Linked DNA regions of Homo sapiens. The protein of the gene in region 1 interacts with the protein of each later gene in a pairwise test. Each region holds a gene or a part of one and is shown in the gene's direction. Other genes may lie near its edges.

The links. Proteins that work in one complex are often made in the same cells at the same time.
Region 2: the proteins of KCTD6 (region 1) and EHHADH interact in binary tests that used the Homo sapiens proteins (3 or more experiments, as listed by UniProt).

The regions. Positions count from the first base shown.
Region 1 is NC_000003.12:58,495,087-58,502,113, forward strand, and holds part of KCTD6 (BTB/POZ domain-containing protein KCTD6), read left to right. Parts: intron 1-3,278; exon of another isoform or gene 3,279-3,626; 5' UTR 3,627-3,669; coding exon 3,670-3,696; intron 3,697-5,859; coding exon 5,860-6,546; 3' UTR 6,547-7,027. UniProt on the Homo sapiens protein: Probable substrate-specific adapter of a BCR (BTB-CUL3-RBX1) E3 ubiquitin-protein ligase complex mediating the ubiquitination and subsequent proteasomal degradation of target proteins.
Region 2 is NC_000003.12:185,202,041-185,209,067, reverse strand, and holds part of EHHADH (peroxisomal bifunctional enzyme), read left to right. Parts: intron 1-4,310; coding exon 4,311-4,652; intron 4,653-7,027. UniProt on the Homo sapiens protein: Peroxisomal trifunctional enzyme possessing 2-enoyl-CoA hydratase, 3-hydroxyacyl-CoA dehydrogenase, and delta 3, delta 2-enoyl-CoA isomerase activities. Catalyzes two of the four reactions of the long chain fatty acids peroxisomal beta-oxidation pathway.

The DNA.
Region 1 (7,027 bases):
AACCATCTTTAGTTTTAGTAAGGAAAGTCACTATAAAGGAAAAATTTTTTATTGTTACCATTCCTGGTAGATTTTCTGAAATATTAGATATTTCTTTGCTTTCATCAAGTAAAATAGGCCTATTTGATACCCATTTCAAGATCTTCCTTCTGCTGCCTGTCTTGTGGTCATTTAACTTCTCATTAAGCCCTCCACTGGAGACTGTGCCAGAAGGGAGAGAAGATGAAAAGCAAATGAATCATTTTCTAATTGTTAGTAGCTCTGGAAAATGATTCAGTAGAAGAGATTGAAACTATTCTGGAAATTCTTTGGGATTGTATTTCATTCATCTGCATCGTTTCAGAGATGTTCCTAATGGTCGTCAATTCAGAATTCAGAAGCCGATCATTATCCAGCTATTGGATAACAGGGAATTTTTCATGCTTTTTTTTTGTTTGTTTGTTTCTTGCTGTATTTAAGCATCTCCACAGAAGATATTTAGAAGCAGGTAGAGATAAAATTTAAACTAATCAATACTGTTTTTTCCCTTTGAACTCTTTAATGCACAATTTGATTTCTTTAGACAGTTTACTCATTGTTATTGGAAGTGACTAATAGTAACTTTGCTTCAATTTATTTTGATGTATCTTATACACAAGTATAGGAAGGCTTTTGGGTGGTTTTTAAGAAACATGGGCTGTAGATTCCCATAATTGCTTTCCTGAATTATTAAGCGTGAGCTTTCATTACATCTTTGTACCGGAACTTTTGCTTTTGCTGTGGAACAGATTCAGGGACATCGTCTAATTTTTTTTTTTTTTTTTTTAGATAACTGCTCAAGAAGTTACCTTGTTTTGATTTAGCAGTAAAAAAGAAAAAAAGGGTTAATAGTGGACAGACTTTTCGTTAACGGCTGCAACATTGATGTCTGCTTTTTTCCTTGTCTTTGATCTTCTGTTTCTCATTTAATCATTTGGATATTCACGGATTGGAGTTCTTTATGTCACTACAGACAGGACAGCAACCGTTATTCACACTAGTTGAATGGGTTCCTGCCTTTTTTTGGTGGGGGGGCCTCAGGAGAATTTTTACAAACCCATTATGACTGTTTAGTTAGGCTGAGTTACTGTAAAATTTGTAAATAAAACCCTACTGGATGGATAGGGTTAATAGATGGCTATAGAGAGTTTAAAGTTAAGCTTTTTCAATTTCTTGTCTCTTGGATTCTGTTCTTTCAATTTCTACCCTAGGAGGGGATTTATGGAAAAATCTAGACTAAGAGTCAGAACATGCAAGTTCTTATCTAGTTACTTCCCAGCTGTGGCGCCCTCAGCTAGTCACTTAATCTGCCTTGTTTCTCTGTTTTGCATCTTTAAGATGAGGATAGTAATCCCTGCTCGGCCTACTGGTATCAGGAATGTTGTAGGGGGAAAAAAAGTCTTTCATGCCCCTGTCTATTAAATTGTTTCTTCCTTCTAGAATCCCTTCTCAGGTTGTCCGAATTTTCTTTCAAGGATTCAACTGAATGGGCTCTTCCCAGAAGTCCTCTATTTCCCATTTGAAATCTTGCTTTTCCCCTCTCACGGGCCTCTGCTGGTCCATCTGTTATACAGCACTTTGAATTCTGTTCTGTACTTCAGTCATTGCATGTTGCCTTCCATTATAGATGGAAAGCTCCATGAGGGCAAAGATTGTCTTTTTCCTCTTTCTGTGTGTCCGCATTGCACATAGGCACCCCCTCCACTCCATAGGTGACCCACAATAATTGTTGGCTGAATGAATGATTATTGAGGCTGTCAGAATGAATACTTTGGGTGATGGGAAAATGCCAAAGATGAGCATCTTACCAGAACTTTTGGATGAGTGGCCTTTTAAATTGCTCAGTTACTAATCTGTTGTTATCAGTAACTGAATCAGATCCTGGCAAGACAAATTGGCAAAGCCCATTTCTTGGTCCTGTTTACTTCGGATACTATTTGTGAAGCAAGTCAGAGGAATGAAAGACTGTCATAACAGTCTTGAATTTGACATTTGTTCCATTTCTCACCCCATAGCATGTGGAGGCCTGTCTATATCCAACTGCTGAGTGTAAAGAATAAAAACTGACTGCCCCATAGTCTGGTCCACATTTTAGTTGTGTGCTTTGAAGGATTTGCAAGGTAGAGAAATAGATGCTTCAGGCTCTGATTTCAGCCCATGCTGTGCTATGCAAATGTTCTCTACATGCCTGAGTGACCTTTTGAGAAAGAGCCTTTGTGATCTTCTGTAGCTAGGGCTTGTTCTGGGAATTCTGTGCCAGATTCCTCTAAAAGTGGGAAAAGTGAATCTGTTAAAGGACCACGTAAAAAAGCCAGTGCTTTTCCTGGATGAATACCAATAAGTCCATGTTTCTTACCATGTCTTGCCAGAGCTTTAGAAATTTGCTCTGCAGTTTGCTTTACAGGTTGATTTGGGATTGAAGTGTGTGAGAGGGAACTGACTAAGGCAGTTCAGTAGCTGGGAAACTGTTTGTTTAAATGCTTTTGAATTGTAGATAAAAATAAATTCACATTGGCATCATTAGTATCTGAGCATTTCTCAGTGTCTTAAGGCTGGCTCTCCATGAGTGCTGGCTGATTGACTCTCATCTATATCGGTAAGGTTCTTTTTGCCCCAAATTGTGCTCTTTAACACTTCGGCATTTAAATCACTTTCTATTTGTTTTAATTGTACAAAGAGAAATACATCATTATTTAAAAGCATCATCTTTTTTTTTTATATTGTAAGATAAATACCATTCTGATGTATTTCTCTTGGAAAGGGATGCTGGTATCCTGGGAGGTTTATGATTTTTGATGTTTTTACTCAGGTGATTGGCTTGTATAGCTGAAATGCTGATGAAAAGGAGTTTTCCCTTCTCCCTTTTTCTTTTCTTTTCTTTTTTTTTTTTTTTTTGAGATGGAGTCTCGCACTGTTGCAGGGGCTGGTGTGCAGTGGCACAGTCTCGGCTCACTGCAACCTCCGCCTCTCGGGTTCAAGTGATGCTCCTGCCTCAGCCTCCTGAATAGCTAGGATTACAGGTGCCCACCACCACGCCCAGCTAATTTTTTGTATTTTTAGTAGAGATGGGGTTTCACTATGTTGGGCAGTCTGGTCTTGAACTCCTGACCTGGTGATCCTCCTGCCTCAGCCTCCCAAAGTGCTGGGATTATAGGCATGAGCCACTGCGCCCAGCCTGTCCCTTTTTCTTAAATGACCTTTTTGGTGAGGACCATTATAGGTTTGTACCAGGATAAGGTTGTAGAGTTAATCATAATATTCTCTTATATAAATTCTAAAAATTGATGTTCTAAGAAGAGAGGTAGAATTTGAATGACTGGGTTACTTCCTAGACTCTTCCTCCTTCTCTTAAGTACAGTATAGTTCTTTCTCTGAAAATCTTCAGTCTCTTAGTTCCAGATGGGTTCTCTATGGTAAGAATACAGGACATGTAGAAGGCCCTAGGGGAATGCTTTCTTCCCCAGATCTTTGCCCTGTAGTAGGTTTCAGCTGAGCAAGGACGAGTAGTTTTTCTGGTGTTTGGCCTCCTCTGTTGGGTGGAAAAAGACTTTCTTCTCTATTTTCCTAGTTATATATGCTATCATATGTCTGTTTTTCTCCTCTTGAAGTTTCCCTGAAACCTGGGCTCTTGAAGACGCATCACTGGAGCAGATGGATAATGGAGACTGGGGCTATATGGTGAGTGCTTCTTGGAGATGCATTTTGAAGGCTGGGGAATTATTTTTGTGTGTCTTTTTATCCTTATGTATTTTTAGGTATATCTTATAAGAAAAGAAAATTGTGAATTTGTGTAACCTCTCTTCCCCCTTTTACTTAGTTTAGATGTATTTTGGAGGCGTTTTTGTCTTGTGTGGTGTTTTTTAAATTTTTATTTAATTTTTTTTATGTGGAGTCTCGCCTTCTTGCCCAGGCTGGAGTGCAGTGGCGCGATCTTGGCTCACTGCAACCTCCACCTCCTAGGTTCAAGAGATTCTCCTGCCTCAGCCTCCTGAGTAGCTGGGATTATCAGCGTGCACCACCACATCTGGCTAATTTTTGTATTTTTAGTAGACACGGGGTTTCACCATGTTGGCCAGGCTGATCTCGAACTCCTGACCTCAAACGATCCTCTGCCTTTGTTTGGTGTTTTAATGGAATCAAACTCAAAATGGATTTTCCAAATACTTTTTATAATCACTGGAGAGGTAACGTGATTTTTTATTTTTTCAAGTGTGTTGCTCTGAAGACTCTTTCTTCATGAATAGTGACTACAAAGGGATCTAGTGAGTTTGGAGGATATTTTGTTGTGGTTTGGGAGATTAATGGTTGAGAAAGTGCCTCTTCTCCCCACTTGCATTTTTTGTGTGTGCATATGTCTCCCTATTTTTCTATTCCTTTGGTGTAAGGTATATTTTACTTGCCTATACCTGAAGTCTCTGTCTGCCTTTCTTTTTTCTTTCTTCCTTTTTTTTTTTTTTTTTCGAGACAGGGTCTTGCTCTTTTCCCTAGGCTGGAGTGCAATGGCGTGATCTCGGCTCATGACTTTCCAAGCTCAGGTGATTGTCCCACCTCAGCCTCCTGAGTAGCTGAGACGATAGGTGGGCACCAACATGTGTGGCTAATATTTTGTATTTTTTGTAGAGATGGAGTTTTGTCATGTTGCCCAGGCTGGTCAGCAACTCCTGGGCTCAAGTGATCCACCCTCCTTGGCCTCCCAAAGTGCTGGGATTACAGGTGTGAGCCACCACACCTGGCCTATTTTTTTCGTAAATAGTATTTCTAAAACTGAAGGTATGTTTTTTAAGAGAAGCTTGCTTCTCAGAATTAAAGGCCAGATTGCAGCATTAATGTTACAAAAGTGAATACACTATCAGATTATGAAATTTTATGGCTGCTGTAAGCTTTTGGGTATGTGATGCTTTTCTGGCTTGGTTGTATTGACTAAACTGTATATTTTAACTTAGTATTTGAAAGTATCACTTCCATGAAAAAGTTACCAAGATTAGGTCTGCACAGTTTTTAATTTAATTTAAATAATTTTTTTTTTTTGGAGACAAAATCTCTCTGTGTCGCCCAGGCTGAAGTGAAGTGGCATGATCTTGGCTCACTGCAGCCTGTGCCTCCTGGGTTCAAGTGATTCTCATACCTCAGCCTCCCAAGTAGCTAGGACTACTCAGGCCACCACACCCAGTGAATTTTTTTTTTTTTTTTTTTGTATTTTTAATAGAGATGGGGTCTTGCCATGTTGCCCAGGCTGGTCTTGAACTCCTGAGCTCAGGCAATCTGCCTGCCCCGGCCTCCCAAAGTGCTAGGATTACAGGTATGAGCCACTGTACCTGGCCCAAATTTTTATTTTAAAAACAAATTTCATAGTTTGTTCCTTTTGTTTGAGGGGGAGAAACCAAAGAAATATTGAAAGTAAATGTCTATATTATCAGATCATTTTAATTCTATCTAATGTTAAATTAAATTCAGAAAAATGCAAGCCTTAAAAAAAAATCAGAAAAAAATAAGTGTATTTTAGCGTGGCTTTTCCCTTCCCACATATATTCTGGCCTGAAAACTCTATAGATAATGGGCCTGAAATGATTTGGCTCTGGAAGTCAATGCCCTGTATTCTTAGCATAAGTCTTTAAAGAGAAATTGGATTTCTCCTTTTTTTTTCTATTGAAAGCAAATGTTAGATCACTTCATCTGGGTGGGTTTATTGCTGGTAGTAAAGTCATTTTGCATTAGAGGATTACTAAATACATTATAGCCTGAAAGAATCTTGGGCTTTGCTCAGTATCACTTACTTTCTTAATTTGTCAAAGTTAGTATTTAAAAATTTCAGATGACTGATCATTTCTTTACAAATTTCAGATGACTGACCCAGTCACATTAAATGTAGGTGGACACTTGTATACAACGTCTCTCACCACATTGACGCGTTACCCGGATTCCATGCTTGGAGCTATGTTTGGGGGGGACTTCCCCACAGCTCGAGACCCTCAAGGCAATTACTTTATTGATCGAGATGGACCTCTTTTCCGATATGTCCTCAACTTCTTAAGAACTTCAGAATTGACCTTACCGTTGGATTTTAAGGAATTTGATCTGCTTCGGAAAGAAGCAGATTTTTACCAGATTGAGCCCTTGATTCAGTGTCTCAATGATCCTAAGCCTTTGTATCCCATGGATACTTTTGAAGAAGTTGTGGAGCTGTCTAGTACTCGGAAGCTTTCTAAGTACTCCAACCCAGTGGCTGTCATCATAACGCAACTAACCATCACCACTAAGGTCCATTCCTTACTAGAAGGCATCTCAAATTATTTTACCAAGTGGAATAAGCACATGATGGACACCAGAGACTGCCAGGTTTCCTTTACTTTTGGACCCTGTGATTATCACCAGGAAGTTTCTCTTAGGGTCCACCTGATGGAATACATTACAAAACAAGGTTTCACGATCCGCAACACCCGGGTGCATCACATGAGTGAGCGGGCCAATGAAAACACAGTGGAGCACAACTGGACTTTCTGTAGGCTAGCCCGGAAGACAGACGACTGATCTCCGACCCTGCCACAGGTTCCTGGAAAGACTCTCCAGGAAATGGAAGATACTGATTTTTTTTTTTAAATCACAGTGTGAGATATTTTTTTTCTTTTAAATAGTTGTATTTATTTGAAGGCAGTGAGGACCAGAAGGAAGTTTTGTGCTTTGGCAGACTCCTCCATGTTTTGTTCCCTTCCCCCTGAGTATGCATGTGCCTGTTCAGAGTCTCCAGATACCTTTTTTATAAAAAGAAGTCTGAAAATCATTATGGTATATAATCTACCCTTAACAGAGCTTTTCTTATTACAGTGCTAAAATGATTTCTGATAAAATGGTCCCTAACTCAACTAGAAGGCTAAAAATACAAGAATGAAAGAATAAGCAGAGTACTCATGATGCCTTTGAGAAAAATCAAAACATCATGTAGGGTGACCTAGTTTCCAAACCAATAAATAAGTAGTATTGTAATATTAAAGGAAAACTGTTCCAATCATTT
Region 2 (7,027 bases), about 130 Mb from region 1:
ACAAAAAGTTTCTTCATGCCCATTAACACTAACTCCTACTCACATCCCCAGCCCTAGGCAACCACTGATCTTTCTGTCTCTATAGATTTGCATTTTTTGGACCTTGGATCTAAATGGCATCATACAATATGTAATGTTTTGCATCTGGCTTCTTTTAGTTAGCATAATGTTTCTGAGGCTCATCTGTATCTGTATTGTAGCATGTATCAACAGTTTGATCCTTTTTATTGCTGAATAATATTCTATTGCATGGCTCTATCAAATTTCTTTAGTCATTCAACAGCTGATGGATGTTTGGATTGTTTCCAGATTTTGCTATTATAAATAATGCTGCCATGAATATTTGTAGACAAGTTTTCTTTATGGCATATGCTTTCATTTCTCTTGTGTAGATTCCTGGGAGTGAAATTGCTGGGTTGAACAATCAGTTTATGTTTATCTTTTTAAGAAACAACTAAACTGTTTTCCAAAGCAATGTGCTGTTTTACACTCTCAGAAGCAACGTATGAGGCTTCTGGTTTCTCTACATCATCACCAACATTCAGTAGTGATGGCTTTTTATTATAGTCATTCTAGTAAGTCTAACTGCATAACAAATGACCCCAAAACTTAGTGGCTTAAAATCAAACATTTATTCCACAATTTCTGTGGGTCCAGAATCCAAGTGTCCTAGGTCCTCTGGCTTTCAGATTTCAAACAAAGCTACAATCAAGGTGTTGTCTGTGGCTGTAGTCATCTCAGGTTGATTAGGGGTCAGGGGGAGAATCTGCTTTCAAACTCACTCAAGCGGTTGTTGGTAGGATTCAGTTCCGTATGGGCTGTTGTACTGAGGGCCTCAGTTCCTCACTGACTGTGGGCTGAAAGCCTCCCTCAGTTCTTTGCCACGTGGGCTTCACCATAGGGTGGCTCACAACAGGGCAGCTGGCTTCCATCAGAGTGACCAATTTGAGAGGGCAAGAAAGTATGAGCAAGACTGAAGCCAGAGTCTTTTTGTAACCTAATCTAGAAATGACAGCCCATTACTTAGAGTCTGTCTACCACATTTGTTGCGGTTTTAATTTGCATTTCCTTAATGACTAATGATGTCGAGCATCTTTTTGTGTGCATATTAGCCATTCACATATGCTCCTTGATGAAATAACTGCTCAAGTTTTTGCCCGTTTAAGAAATTACATTGTTTACCTAATTATTGAGTCATAAGAGTTTGTTACATATTCTGGAAACAAGTTCTTTATTTGATATTTGATGTGCCAATTATATTTTCTATTGCTGTGCTAAAAAATTACCACAAGCTTAGCAGTTTAAATCATCCGAAATTATTTTCTTACAGTTGTGTAGACTAGAAGTATTGTAGAGGTCTCCCTGGGCTAAAATCCAGGTGTCAGCTGGTGCACTCTTTTCTGGAGGCTCTAGGGGAGAAACTGTTTCCTGCTTATTTGGGTTGTTGGCAGAACTCAGTACTTTGCATTGTGGGATCAGAGTCCCCATGTTCTTGCTTGCAAACTTGCGACCTTGTAAACCTTAAAGGTCAATCCCAGCTTCTAGAGAACACTGCATTCTTTAGTTCTTGGTCTCCTTTCCTCATATTCAAAGCTACATCAGTGCCAACAGGTCGAGTCCTTTGCATGTTGCATTTCTCTAACCCTTCTTCCTTGTTGAATCCCCCTCACCACAGTCAGGAAAGATTCTCTGCTTTTAAGGACTCATATGATTAGATTGCACTCAATCAGATAACACAGGGTAATATCCCCATCTCAATGTCTAATTTTTTTTTTTTTTTGAAATGGGGTCTCACTCTGTCACCCAGGCTGCAGTGCAGTGGCACGACCTTGGCTCACTCACTGCAACCTCTCAGGCTCAAACGATTCTCCCACTTCAGCCTCCAGAGTAGCTGGGACCACAGGGGTGCGCCACCATGCCCGGCTAATTTTTTGTATTTTTGGTAGAGACAGAGTTTCACCACGTTGCCCAGGTTGGTCTCAACCTCCTGAGCTCAAAGCAATCTGCCCACCTCGGCCTCCCAGAGTACTGGAATTACAGGCGTGGGCTACTGTGCCCAGCCAAGGTCTTTAATCTTACTCTCACCTATACATCTCTTTACCATGTGAGGTTATACATTCACAGATTCTAGGAATTAAGACATGAACATTTGGTGGGGGGGGTGTTATTCTGACTACCACACAAGTATTTTCTTCTAGTTTATGGCTTGTCATTTCATTTTTTTTTTTCTGTTTTTTTTGGAGACAGAGTCTCGCTCTGTCACCCTGGCTGGAGTGCAATGGCATGATCTCGGCTCACTGCAACCTCCACCTCTCAGGTTCTAGCAATTTTCCTGCCTCAGCTTCCCGAGTAGCTGGGATTACAGGTGCACACCACCATGTCCAGCTAATTTTTTGTATTTTAGTAGAGATGGGGTTTCACCATGTTGCCCAGGCTGGTCTCGAACTCCTGAGCTCAGACAATCCACCCGCCTCGGCCTCCCAAAGTGCTAGGATTACAGGCGTGAGCCACTGCACCTGGCTGTCATTTCATTTTCTTATTGATATCCTTTGAAGAACAAAAGTCTTTAATTTTTATGAAGTCTGATTTCTTGTTTCTTTTGTATGTCATGCTTTTGGTGTTGTATCTAAGAATACTTTGCCTAACCCCAAGGTCCTGAAAATTTTTTTATATTTTCTTCTAGGAATTTTTATAGTATTAGTTCTTCAATTTAGATTTGTGATCTGTTTTCAGTTGATTTTTATATATGGTGCTAGGTAAGGACCTAAATTTTTTTTTTTTTTTATTGTTTTTGGCATGTGGATATCCAATTATCCCACTACGATTTGTTGAAAGATTCTCCTTTTGAGGATTTTTTTCTGAACGATTATTATCTAAAGTGTGTTGTTGCTTTAGGGTCACAGTATGCTTGTGTGCATCTGTTACCATGTCACTGTGGTCCTTCGCTGAGTGCCCTTAGGGGACTAGAATCTTTCCAATAAACCACGTTTGAGATCGTATGAGTCAGCGTGCAGTGTAGCCCACACTTGAGAGTGTGGATTTATGTGCACAGTCACTTTGCTCTGGGTGGAAGTAGGTTATAGTTGACTTACTTTCTCGGTGCTTGTTCCTACAGCCCCTCTTTTCATGTGTTGCTCAATCTCCCTATCCCTTCTTGGTGCTTGCACATCTCAGACCCTTTAGCCAGACCCTTTAGCCAAACCCTTGCCAATAACAGTATTTTTGTTCTCAGTTCTGTTCCCTCTGGTTGCGGAGACTTTGAATAAAAATGCACACACCTATTCAGTGGGATTTAGCTGGAAAAGGTGACCTTCCAACCTCACGTCAACTTCTGGCTCCTCAAACAGTAGGTTGGCAGTAAGGCAGGAAAGTTGTTTTCCCATTTCTCACTGAGCAGATTGTGAATATTTCCATATGGATTTTCTGTTGTTAATGTTGCTCCGATTCTTTGTTTTAAAATAAAAATTCTGAATGTGAAAAAAAGAGACTCTCCTTTCTTCCATTGAATTGTTTGGACACCTATGTTGAAAATCATTGGCTATAATTGTAAGAGTTTATTTGTGAACTCTCGATTCTCTTCCATTGATATATATACCTATCCTTGCATCAATACCACGCTGTCTCCTTTTCTAGGTATTTTAAAGTTTTTGTTACTATTAGGAACGGAGTTAAGGTTATTTTGAATCTAAAATATTCACTCAATAATAGACACTAGAGTCTCTACTACAGGGGAAGGGAGGGAGGATGGCAAAGGTTGAAAAACCAACTTCTGGGTACTATGCTCACTACTGGGGTGGCAGGATTATTCATATCCCAAGCCTCAGCATCGTGTGATATACCCATGTAACAAACCTGCACATGTATGCCCTCAATCTAAAATAAAAGCTGAAATAATTTTTAAAAATTAATAAATAAAATATTAACTCAGAACCGTTTTCCTTAGACTCATTAATATTTAATATATTAATATTAATTACAGATTAAATATTAATCTATTGATTAATTTAATTAATTAATCATTAATCTATTATAAAATTGTCTTGGTCTTGGATTAAAAAGAAAATACAACTTTTATGCCTAAACTAGGTAACCTAAAATTGCTTTGAGTCTACTAAATTCTATCTTGTAGGACTGTGTTGCAAAGATATCAGAGATGTTAGTGTACATATGTTTAGTGTACATTAAATGTCTTAATGAATAGCTTTTAGTTTGTGCTTTGAATTTGAACAGGTTATTGTTATTACTATATATTCACATTCCCTTTGTACAAGTAACATTTCCAAAGCTCTGATCCTTCTTATTCCTTTCAGATCAACCTCTAGAATCCCGTAGACTCTGCAACAAGCCAATTCAGAGCTTGCCCAACATGGACAGCATTTTTAGTGAGGCCCTCTTGAAGATGCGGAGGCAGCACCCTGGGTGTCTTGCACAGGAGGCTTGTGTCCGTGCAGTCCAGGCTGCTGTGCAGTATCCCTATGAAGTGGGCATCAAGAAGGAGGAGGAGCTGTTTCTATATCTTTTGCAATCAGGGCAGGCTAGAGCCCTGCAATATGCTTTCTTCGCTGAAAGGAAAGCAAATAAGTGGTCAACTCCCTCCGGAGCATCGTGGAAAACAGCATCAGCGCGGCCTGTCTCCTCAGTTGGTGTTGTTGGTAAGACCATGGGGTAATGAATGGAATCCTCCAAATCTGCTCATGTAATGTGCTACCATTTGCTTAGGGCTACCGGATGCTAGGTTTCACGTAAGACACATTACTTGTGTTAGCTAAGCTAATTCTCACACCACCCCATGAGCTCTCTTCTTTAACATGAGAGGCCTAGAGACGCCAGCCTTCTCAATGGTGAGCTAAACACGAGTAGGGTGAAAGTCTGACCCTAGGTCTGACTCCAGACTGGGAATGTTTTATTCTTTTTTTTTTTTTTTTTTTTTTTTTTGAGACAGAGTCTTGTTCTGTCACCCAGGCAGGAGTGGAGTGGCTCAATCTCGGTTCACTGCAACCTCCACCTCCCAGGTTCAAGTGATTCTCTTTCCTCAGCCTCCTGAGTAGCTGTGACTACTGCCACCATGCCCAGATAATTTTTGTATTTTTAGTAGAGACAGGGCTTCGCCATGTTGGTCAGGCTGGTCTCGAACTCCTGGCCTCAAGTGATCCACCTGCCTTAGCGTCCCAAATTTCTGAGATTACAGGTGTGAGCCACCATTCCTGGCCTAGCATTTTTTATTCTATGCTACCTCTTCCCTGTATGAATCTCTCATTCCTGGATTTCCTGATGATGATGATTTGTACCACATTTCAAGGTGTGGCCTGTCACTCTCATAGCTGGGTATTTGCAATCAAGTCTCTGTCTTTCCGTCCCCCGATCCATTCACTTCACCTGTTCAAAACCACTATCCTCAAATCCATCTTAACCCTGAAACCATGGCTTCCTTACTTTTTTTCCCTCTGGAATTTTCCCAAACAAAATATCTTCCTTCCTCAGATGCTAGCTCCCTGATTGGCTTCTCTGGGCCACTTTCCTAAGCTTCACTTGCTCTTAGTCTCGGCTCAAGAACGGTCTTTGGTGGATTTTAAATCCCTTGAGATGGTAAGTGAAGCATTCTTTGCACCAGCTTAGGTACAATCTTCTGGGGAGAGGGTCCATAGTTTACTAAAAGCATCAACTTTCTTTCTTTTCTTTTTTTCTTATATTTAAGTTTTTTTAATCATAATTAAAGACATGCAGGAAAGTTATAATAGTACAAAAAATTCTCATATACTTTTTATCCAGATCCTCCAAATGTTAACGTTTTACTATATTTGTTTTATTTCCCTCTCTCTTTTCTGAACCCTAAGAAAAAGTTACAGACTTATGTGTATTTCCTAAAATTAATATTCTCATACATGACCACAGTATAATTTATTTTAAAAAACAGGGCAATTAATATAAAGAACTATTATTTAGTCTATAGCCCTTATTCTGATTTTTCTTTCTTTTTTCTTTTTTTTTAACCATCTTTACGATTTGTAAGTATACAGTTCAGTAGTAATAAATATATTTATATCCTTTTTTTTCCCTTCATCTCCCATCCCCCCCTCCCCTTCCTGGCCTTTGGCAACCACCAATCTACCCTGTATCATTATGAGATCTACATTTTAAGCTCCCACATATGAGTGAGAACATATGATATTTGCCTTTTTGTGTAAAAGCATCAACTTTCTTAACCCTTGCCCAGCTGTCTAGCACAGTGGTCTCCAACCTTTTGGCACCAGGGACCAGTTTCACGGAATACAATTTTTCACGGATTGGGGGATGATGGTTTTGGGATGAAACTGTTCTACCTCAGATCATCAGGCATTAAATTCTCAGAAGGAGCATGCAACCTAGATCCCTCACATGCGCAGTTCACAATAGGGTTCGCGCTCCTGTGAGAGTCTAATACCACCACTGATCCGACAGGAGGCGGAGGTCAAGGCTGAAATGCTCCCTAGCCTGTTGCTTACCTCCTGCTGTGCTAACAGGTCACGGACTGGTACCGGTCCACAGCCAGAGGTTGGCGACCCCTGCTGTAGCACCAACCCAACTTGGAGGCAAAGATCTCACTCCACATTTTCTCAGTCTGTTTGTTCTCTCAATTCAACTTTGGTATCAAAGAATCTGTCTCTAATATAAATACATTGTGCTCCTTTCAGCTCTGACTCTGTTGAGGTCTACCCTTGATTCGCTTGGGATTTTTTTTTTTTTTTTTTTGATATGGAGTTTCGCTCTGTCACCCAGGCTGGAGTGCAGTGGCGCAATCTCAGCTCACCACAACCTCCGCCTCCCAGGTTCCAGCAATTCTCGTGCTTCAGCCTCCCAAGTAGCTGGGATTACAGGTGCTGCGCCACCAAGCCTGGCTGATTTTTGTATTTTTAGTAGAGACAGGGTTTCACTATGTTGTCCAGGCTGGTCTTGAACCTCTGACCTCAGGTGATCCGCCCACCTTGGCCTCCCAAAGTGCTGGAGTTACAGGCGTGAGCCTTTGTGCCCAGCCTCACTTGTGATTTTT